Regions from separate parts of the Homo sapiens genome. Here region 1 is linked to region 2. Evidence: fine-mapped expression QTL. A gene starts in region 2. The other region holds a variant in brackets. All regions are shown on one strand. Distances are from middle to middle.

The links. PIP is the estimated chance that this variant, and not a neighbour inherited with it, causes the effect. A credible set is the group of variants that fine-mapping cannot tell apart.
Region 1: its variant is the best candidate, but not a certain one, in a credible set for the expression of LINC03034 in thyroid (GTEx, PIP 0.67).

The regions. Positions count from the first base shown.
Region 1 is chr15:31,194,263-31,198,611 of GRCh38, reverse strand. No RefSeq gene overlaps it. Among named protein-coding and RNA genes, the nearest start is that of LINC02352, 20 kb to the left of the region's middle. The variant G/A (reference allele first, on the strand shown) is at 1,816.
Region 2 is chr15:31,228,300-31,232,695 of GRCh38, reverse strand. LINC03034 (long intergenic non-protein coding RNA 3034) reads left to right here and starts at 1,834. Exons shown (of 4, transcript NR_171016.1): 1 at 1,834-1,989; 2 at 3,345-3,424.

The sequences.
Region 1 (4,349 bases), 34 kb after region 2:
AAAGAAAGAGAAAGAAAAGAAAAGAAAGAGTGGAGATATGTAACATGACTTGGTAACCCAACTGTGAGAGGAGGGTAATTGCAGGAGTGAAGTTCTTAGACATGGTGAGCTGAAGGGACAAGGCAGGGCTGGCCCCATGGAAGCAGAGGAGAAGGGATGCTGGCTGACAGCAAGATGGGGGAAGGAAGGCAAGTGCCCGATTCCTCTGTTTTCTCTGTAAACTGAGACAGGAGGCCCTCAGCTGGGGAACAGTGTGCTGGGTACTCAAAGACAGAAAAGTCCAACACACTTGACTAAGGAGGGGAAGGCGGAGTGTGGTAGGAATCCAGGCAATTCGAGGATGATTGGAGAAACCGATCAAGTCCATCGCCCTTGGTGGCTTGCATCCAAATTCATTAACTCACCCAACAAGCACTCAAGGATTGCCATCTACGAGGGAGGAGGAGGAGGGGGAGGTTAGGGATAGAAGAAGGAGAAGGGAAAGAGAGCTACATTGGTAGAGCCCGTACTGAGTGCAGGAGCCAAGCAAAGTTTGTCTCAATCAATCACAGCATCTCTGGGGCTTTGAGGCTGCCCACGACTCCCATTGACTTGGGGGAAGACAGACTTGGAGAGACCACAGAACTTGCCTGGCATCACACGACTAACCAGTAATGGAGCCAGCACATAAGCACAGGTCTGGTCCAGGTTCCCTGGTTTAACCTCTATGCCACCTGCTCCCAGCTGCTGTGCACAAAACAATCTACTTCTTGGTGTGTCGCTCCACAAACTCAGAATGCAAATTATCTTTGAAATTAATCATTCTGGTATTCACTGGCCTTAAAAATAGAAAGCCCCATATCTTCCCCTGGCAGTCCCCTCTTGCCTTGAATTCTCAAGAAATCAATCAATCAATCCAAAAAAATCCCTGGGGACTTGGTGCAAAGTTTTCTTGGTGTGGGAAGAGCAGGTTCCTGACATTGCTCCACGCTGCCACGTGGCGGCGCCATTGAGGCCTGGTCCAACAGAACCTGGAGATGTGTGTCTTTGCTGCTGGCCTGGCCCTCCCTGCAAGGGCACCGTGACCTCAGAGGGGAGCCCAGTCCCTCAGACCCAGCTGCTCCAGGTGTGTCCTCTGCTGTGATCCCCAGGCTTGGCCTTTTTCCCAGCGACCCTCTTAGAGTGACAGTGTCCAGGGCCCTCTGACCACATGTCTAAACATGTAAAAATCATAGTCAGGTGTGGTGGCTCACACCTGCAGTAATACCACCACTCGGCCAGGCGCAGAGGCTGACGCCAGTAATCCCAGCACTTTGGGAGGCCGAGGCGGGCGGATCACGAGGTCAGGAAATCGAGACCATCTTGGCTAACACGGTGAAACCCTGCCTCTACTAAAAATACAAAAAATTAGCCGGGCGTGGTGGCGGGCACCTGTAGTCCCAGCTACTCGGGAGGCTGAGGCAGGAGAATGGTGTGAACCCGGGAAGCAGAGCTTGCAGTGAGCCAAGATTGCGCCACTGCACTCCAGCCTGGGGGACAGAGGGAGACTCTGTCTCAAAAAAAAAAAAAAAAAAAAAAGAAAAAAAGAAAGGTAATCCCACCACTCTGGGAGGCTGAAGAGGGCGGATCACTTGAAGTCAGGAGTTCTAGACCAGTCTGGCCAACATGAGGAGACCCCATCTCTACCAAAAAAAAAAAAAAAAAAAGTAAAGGTCATAAATCAAACTAATATGTATAAAGTTACAGTTTTTATATGATTGAAACGTGGCAAAATATCATAGATGGCTGAATTTAATTATTGTTCATGTCTGGGTGTGATGTTGATGGGTTGGTGTT[G/A]TTTGCATGAATAATAAAGTCATACTTCATAAACTGTTATTTATTCTGTAAAATTTATTTTTCCTGCCTTTGCTTTAGCAAAATCACTGATTATGTTGAGATAATGAGATTTTCATAGATTTATGTTCAAATGATAGGAAAGCCAAGTTACACCTTTCCTGAATCAACAAAATAGTTGTTATATATATATTTAAATATATTTAAATTCAATTTAGAGAAACTTTGCTCTGATGAGGTGGTAGCAACTGGAATCATTACTCGAATTCTTTTCTTTTCTTTTCTTTTTTTTCCAGAAAAAAAAAAAAATGCCCAGCCCAGCCTGGAGTGCAGTGGCATGACCCTGGTTCACTGCAACCTCTGCCTACCAAGTTCAAATGATTCTCCCAGCCTCCTGAGTAGCTGGGATTACAGGTGTGTGCCACCACACCTGGCTGGCTAATTTTTGTATTTTTAGTAGGAACAGGGTTTCACCATATTGGCCAGGCTGCTCTCGAACTCCTGGCCTCAAGTGTGATCCTCCCGCCTCAGCCTCCCAAAGTGCTGGGATTACAGATGTGAGCCACTGTGCCCGGCCTCATTACTCAAATTCTTAAAGCAATACTTAGGTTTGAAAATTAATCCCAAATTGTACATAATATGATCAAATAGTGCAATGGGTCACATATGATAAAGTTTCATTCATGTGGAAAACATTACAAAATATCTTAAAACTTAATGAAATACAAAATTTCATAATGAAAATTTTCATCATCTTTGTAGGTGGTGGTTTTCATGCAATCTCACTGTCCTTTTAAGCAATATCTAGATCAACAGCCAAGTACACGGTAGGAAACCTATATTACACACACCTGTTGAGGAGGAGAGGTCTGCAGGTCCTGGGATGGATCCCAATGCTCCTATTCATTTTGCCTGCTGACTTGCTTATGCAGGGAATGGAGTTTCCGTGTGTCTGTTCAATTTTTTTATTGTGATGTTATCTTCAGTGATTATATATATAATTTATATATATAATATATATATTATATATAATTTATATATTATATATATAATTTATATATATAATATATATAATATATATTATATATATAATTTATATATATAATATATATAATATATATAATATATATAATTTTTATATATATAATATATATAATATATATAATTTATATATATATAATATATATATATATATAATTTTTTTTTCCTGTGAGAATTTTTCTTTCTTTTTTTTTTTGAGCTGGAGTCTTCGCTCTGTCGCCCAGGCTGGAGTGCAGTGGCACAATCTCGGCTCACTGCAAGCTCCACCTCCCAGGTTCACACCATTCTCCTGCCTCAGCCTCCTGAGTAGCTGGGACTACAGGCGCCTGCCACCACGCCCGGCTAATTTTTTTGTATTTTTTAGTTGAGACAGGGTTTCACCGTGTTAGCCAGGATGGTCTCGATCTCCTGACGTCGTGATCCACCCGCCTCATCCTCCCAAAGTGCTGGGATTACAGGCGTGAGACACCACGACCAGCCTTCTGTGAGAATTTTTCTATTTGCCTCTGTCATGCACTGCAAAGATATCTCCTGCCTGGGACCTAATGGATGTTAATCATGGAGATTTCCACAATTCGACAGGTGTAAATTCAGACTCCAAACCCATATGTGGCAAGCGGGATTCTAGCATGGCCCCAAGAGTCCTGCCCCTGGTATGAACTCCCTATAGAATTCCTTCCTCTTTAGTGTGTGCAGAATCAGTGACTATGATAGGATGTCACTCCTGTGATTGTCACAAGTCAGTTGACATTGAATTAATCAAGAGGGAGACTATCCAGGTTATCCTGGGTGGGCCTGGCCCAACCAGAGGAGCCTTTGAAAGAAGGTGAAGCTTCATGGAGACGTGGCCCAGAAGACAGCAGACTGTCGTGTTGCAGACTGCTTGTGGGTCTGATATGGTTTGGATCTGTGTTCCCACCCAAATCTCATGTGGAATTGTAATCCCCAGTGTTGGAGGTGGGGCCTGGTGGGAAGTGATTGGATCATGGGGGCAGTTTCTCATGGTTTGACACCATCCCTTTGTTGCTGTCTTCATGATAGTGGGTCCTCACCAGATCTAGTTGTTTAAAAGTGGATAGCACCTCCCCTCTCACCTCTTTTGCTCCTGCTCCAGCCATGTAAGACGACGTATCTGCTTCCCCTTCACCTTCTGCCCTGATTGTAAGTTTCCTGAGGCCTCCCCAAAGCCGAGCAGATGCCAGCATCATGCTTCCTGTACAGCCTGCAGTACCATGAGCCAATTAAACCCCTTTTCTTTATAAATGACCCAGCCTCCGGTATTTCTTTATAGCAGTCCCAGAGTAGATGCACACAGAGTCCATGTCGCGAGGACCAAGCATGGTCTCCAGAAGCTGAGACAAGTCCCAGGGTGGCCTACAGCCAGCAACAAAGTGGGGACCCGAGTCTTGGAACTGCAAGATAGAACTGAATCTTGCAACTTACAAACTGGGCAACCTGAATGAGCTTAGAGAGAACATGGAGCTCCAAATAAATGA
Region 2 (4,396 bases):
TGGTGACATGCCTTGGTGTAGAATTCTAAAATGGTGGTCCTTAACAGGCTCTTTCCGTTCAGAGGCTCCCATCCTTCACTTGGTAATTTTCTTGTATTATTTATTTGAAAATGTCTCCCCCTTGTATCTGGTCTCACCTTTTGTAACTCTAATTAGTGGAACCCCAAATCATCTGATTGACATGCTAGTTGTCTTTGGTGTCTTATTGTCAATCTTTTTGTCTTTTTTCTAGCAATTTTCTTGACTCCACCTTCTATCTTATTTATTAAATGTCCTCTTTCTTGTGCTTTGATGATCCCTTTCTCCTAGAATGCCAATCTTTTTTTTGTGTGTGTGTGTCTGTGGTCTTGCTCTGTTGCCCAGTTTGGAGTGCAGTGGCGTGATCTCAGCTCACTGCAACCTCCACCTCCTGGGTTCAAGTGATTCTCCTGTCTCAGCCTCCCGAGTAGCTGGACTACAGGCATGCGCCACCATGCCCAGCTAATTTTTGTATTTTAAGTAGAGACAGGGTTTCACCATGTTGGCCAGGCTGGTCTCGAACTCCTGACCTCTGGTGATCTGCCCGCCTCAGCCTCCCAAAGTGTTGGGATTACAGGTGTGAGCCACCACACCCAGCCTAGAATGCCATTCTTGTTTCCTGGATGCAATCTCCTCTATCAGCTCCCAAGAATGTGACTGACAGGGGCTTCATGTTGAGCTTTGCTCTGCCCCTTCCCTCTGCTTCCTCTGAGTGCCTCTTCCCTATGTGTTGCTGGTTGTGCTCCATGTTGGCTGCTTCACTCCTGTGTTCAGTGACCGTGGGCAGTTGGTTCATCTCCAAGGGCACAGCCCTGAAGAGCTCACTGAAGACTTCTTGCTGGCAGGGGATGGTTATAGACTGGTGGCTATAGCAGATTCTTTGTTGGGCAACCCTTACCTGCAAACATGTTTAGGTCTCCTCTCTAGGAACATATGTCCTGCCTGGTACTTGTAGGTCATGCTGCCAACTTCCTGGGAGTAGAGTCGGGAGGGGGTCTTGGGGATCTCCTCAGTGTAGGTGAAGTCTTTCTTCTTATACCTCGACCCCTTTTTAGTCCAGAACCCCACCCCTGCCTTCTGCTGTCCTTCAGCCCCTGAGCCTAGAGCCTCCTTTCTACAATTTCCCCAAAGAACAAACTTCCAGGCTTGTCTGAGGCATGCTGTGGAAGGAACCTGGGATCTCAATGGCTTCCCAGACAGAGTGCTGATCAAGCCCCCTGGTTTGGCCTCCACTGCCCCTGCCCCATGGCCTCTGTAGTGCCAGCTGTCTCCACTTGCCCAGGCTTCTGGGTGGGACCAAATGAATGGCCTTGATTATTAGCAGCATCGTCCCTCCTTGCCTTCACCTGTCCTTGGGTCCTAGCTTTGTCCCATCTGTTCCCCTCACTCACATCTCAGTCTACCTATCAAGAAAATGGGGATAACAGTGGTTCCCATCTCCTGGGATTGCTGTGAAGAAGAAATGAGCTCAGGGTGGTGTCATCATCACCAAGATGGAAATAACCTGGGCAGCCCCTCGGGCAAGCTCTGTCCCCAGTGTGTGTTCTGTTCTGCTCACACAGACCCAGAAAGAGGAGCCAGCCAGGTGACAGTATGAAACACACATGTTGAGTGTGCAGAGCCGGGAACTCTGTTCCTTGCACGTGCTCCAGGCCCTGCCAATGGTGCATGACCAGTCACCAGCCAAGCATGGCGCTGAGAACGTATGTGGCCTCCCTGAGGCTTTGCTCAGTCCCCTCCCTCCACACCCACAGAAAGAGGTGTGCACACATGCAAAATAGCAATAATAATAGTATGAGATGGCAGCTGAGACCTGTGCAGCTGATGACAGTTTGAAAGAAGGATGAGCAGGCTCTCTGCCATCTGCCCACCAACTTTTCAAGTTACTTTTACCCACCTTCAAAATTACATCTGCTTTTAGCAAGAATTACTGATGTGATAAAGATGGGAGTGTTCACCATGCAAGGGCAGGTAAGTTGCTCTGTGCCACTGGGGGTTTAACCCTTAAAAGGAGAGGGGTCTCCCTTCAGCTGCTGCAGGATCCTGGTAGAAGGGGGCACAGATGACATGAAAACCCAGGGAGCCATGCCTGCTGCTGGGATCCGGGCTCACCCACCTCGTGCCCCTACCCAAAACTGTCGGGACACGAAGCCTTGCCGGGAGCCTCGAATGCCCAGGGGCTTGGCCAGGCCACAGACTGTGCGGGGAATGTGTGCACACTGCCCACTTTATCCCATGGCTGTGCCCGCCATAGGTTATGCAGCAGCAGTGGGCACGCGCAATTCAGTTGAATTCAGGGAAGCCAGCAAGTGCTAGGGAATTTCGATGGATGACCTAAGCATGGTCAGGTGTCTATTTAGAAAAATATACACGGCCAGGCGCGGTGGCTCATGCCTGTAATCCCAGCACTTTGGGAGGCCGAGGTGGGTGGATCACAAGGTCAAGAGATCTAGACCATCCTGGGCAACATGGTGAAACCCCGTCTCTACTAAAAATACAAAAATTAGCTGGGTTTGGTGGCGCACGTGTGTAATCCCAGCTACTCATGAGGCTGAGAAAGGAGAATCGCTTGAACCCGGGAGGCAGAGGTTGCAGTGAGCTGAGATGGCACCACTGCACTCCAGCCTAGTGACAGAGCGAGACTCCGTCTCAAAAAAAAAAAAAAGAAAAGAAAAATATACACTTAGGAGGGCGAGGCAGGCAGATCACTTGAGGTCAGGAGTTCGAGACCAGCCTGGCCAACATGGTGAAACCCTGCCTGTCTCTACTAAATATACAAAAATTAGCTGGGTGTGGTGGCGCACACCTGTAGTTCCAGCTACTCAGGAGGCTGAGGCAGGAGAATCGCTTGAACCCGGGAGACGGAGGGTCCAGTGAGCAAAGATTGCACCGCTGCACTCCAGCCTGGGCAACAGAGCAAGACTCTGTATCCAAAAAAACAAAAACAAAAACAAAACAAAAAAACAAAAAAGCAAAACAAAAAAAAAAAACCACTTAATGTACATGATGTGGTAGAAGAAAAGCACTTATTAGTGAGAATTGCCGCCTCCTCCTAAGAAGAGTGTCCCCTACTGCAGGGTGCTTTGCTTCTTAATCAGGCTCAGGAGGGAGGGTCTGAGGCCATTGAGACCATGCCTGGAACAAGGAGGCAGACAGCCAGGCTGGTGACTACAGAGTGCCACGCACACACAGGGGGTGGAGCCAGCACCTCTGTGCTCCACCTATGAAGTGGCCGGCAGTCCTTCCCAGGAGGGTGTGAGCTGAGGTCTCCTGGGTACACCAGCCAGCCCACGGCACAGAGCCTGCCTGTTGGTCTCTACCCACAGGGGATCCCCTGCTGCTCCACCATCAGATTTGGGACACCACCCCCCCCCCGGCCCCACCAGAGGGCATCAGCTATGCCTAGGTAAGTGCTCATCTTAGGGACAAGTAAGAACATAATCAACTGCAGAAATGTCTGCAGGTCTGGCAGGCTCTGCCTCTGCTGCCCCATGCAGACTTCAGCCCAGGGCACCCTTCCTGGTGCTGCACTGGCTGTGTTGTGGATCTGCCTTTCCAGGGCTGGCCTTGTAGACCCTGACCCAAGGAGCAGCTGGGCTGGTCCCACTTCCAACCAGCAGCAGGCAAGGGTGGGACAGAGCCAGACTGCAGCCTCCCCAAGGCATGGCTTTGAGTGTTTTAAAAAACTTAAAATGGCCGGGCATGGTGGCTCACGCCTGTAATCCCAGCACTTTGTGACGCCAAGGTGGGTGGATCACCTGAGGTCAGGAGTTCAAAACCAGCCTGGCCAACTTGGTGAAACCCCATCTCTACAAAAAATTCAAAAATTAGCTGAGCATGGTGGCAGGCGCCTGTAATCCTGGCTACTCGGGAGGCTGAGGCAGGAAAATTGCTTGAACCCAGGAGGCAGAGGTTGCAGTGGAGATTGTACCATTGCACCCTAGCGTGGGTGACAGAGTGAGACTCCCTCTCAAAAAAAAACCCAAAAAAACAAAAGAACTAAAAATGTCCTTTATGCTTGGAGTCAAACATTCCAACAGAATAAAGGAGACAATAGGAATGCTACCACCCCAGACCCCAGGCCACTTACCTGACGGTCTCAGTCAGCTCAGGCTGCTATGACAAAGGACTATAGACTGGGTGGCTTATAAATAGCAGGCATTTATTTCTCATAGTTCAGGAGGCTGGAAGTCCCATATCAAGGTGCCAGTATGGTCAGGTCATGGGGAGGGCTCTCTTCAGGTTGCAGATGGCCACGTGGCAGGGAAAGAGGAAGAGAGCTTGGGGTCTCCATCCTCTTGACCTAAACTCCCAAGGGTTCCACCTCCTAATGCCATCGCACTGGGGCCGAAAATTTCTACATATGAATTTGGGGGGA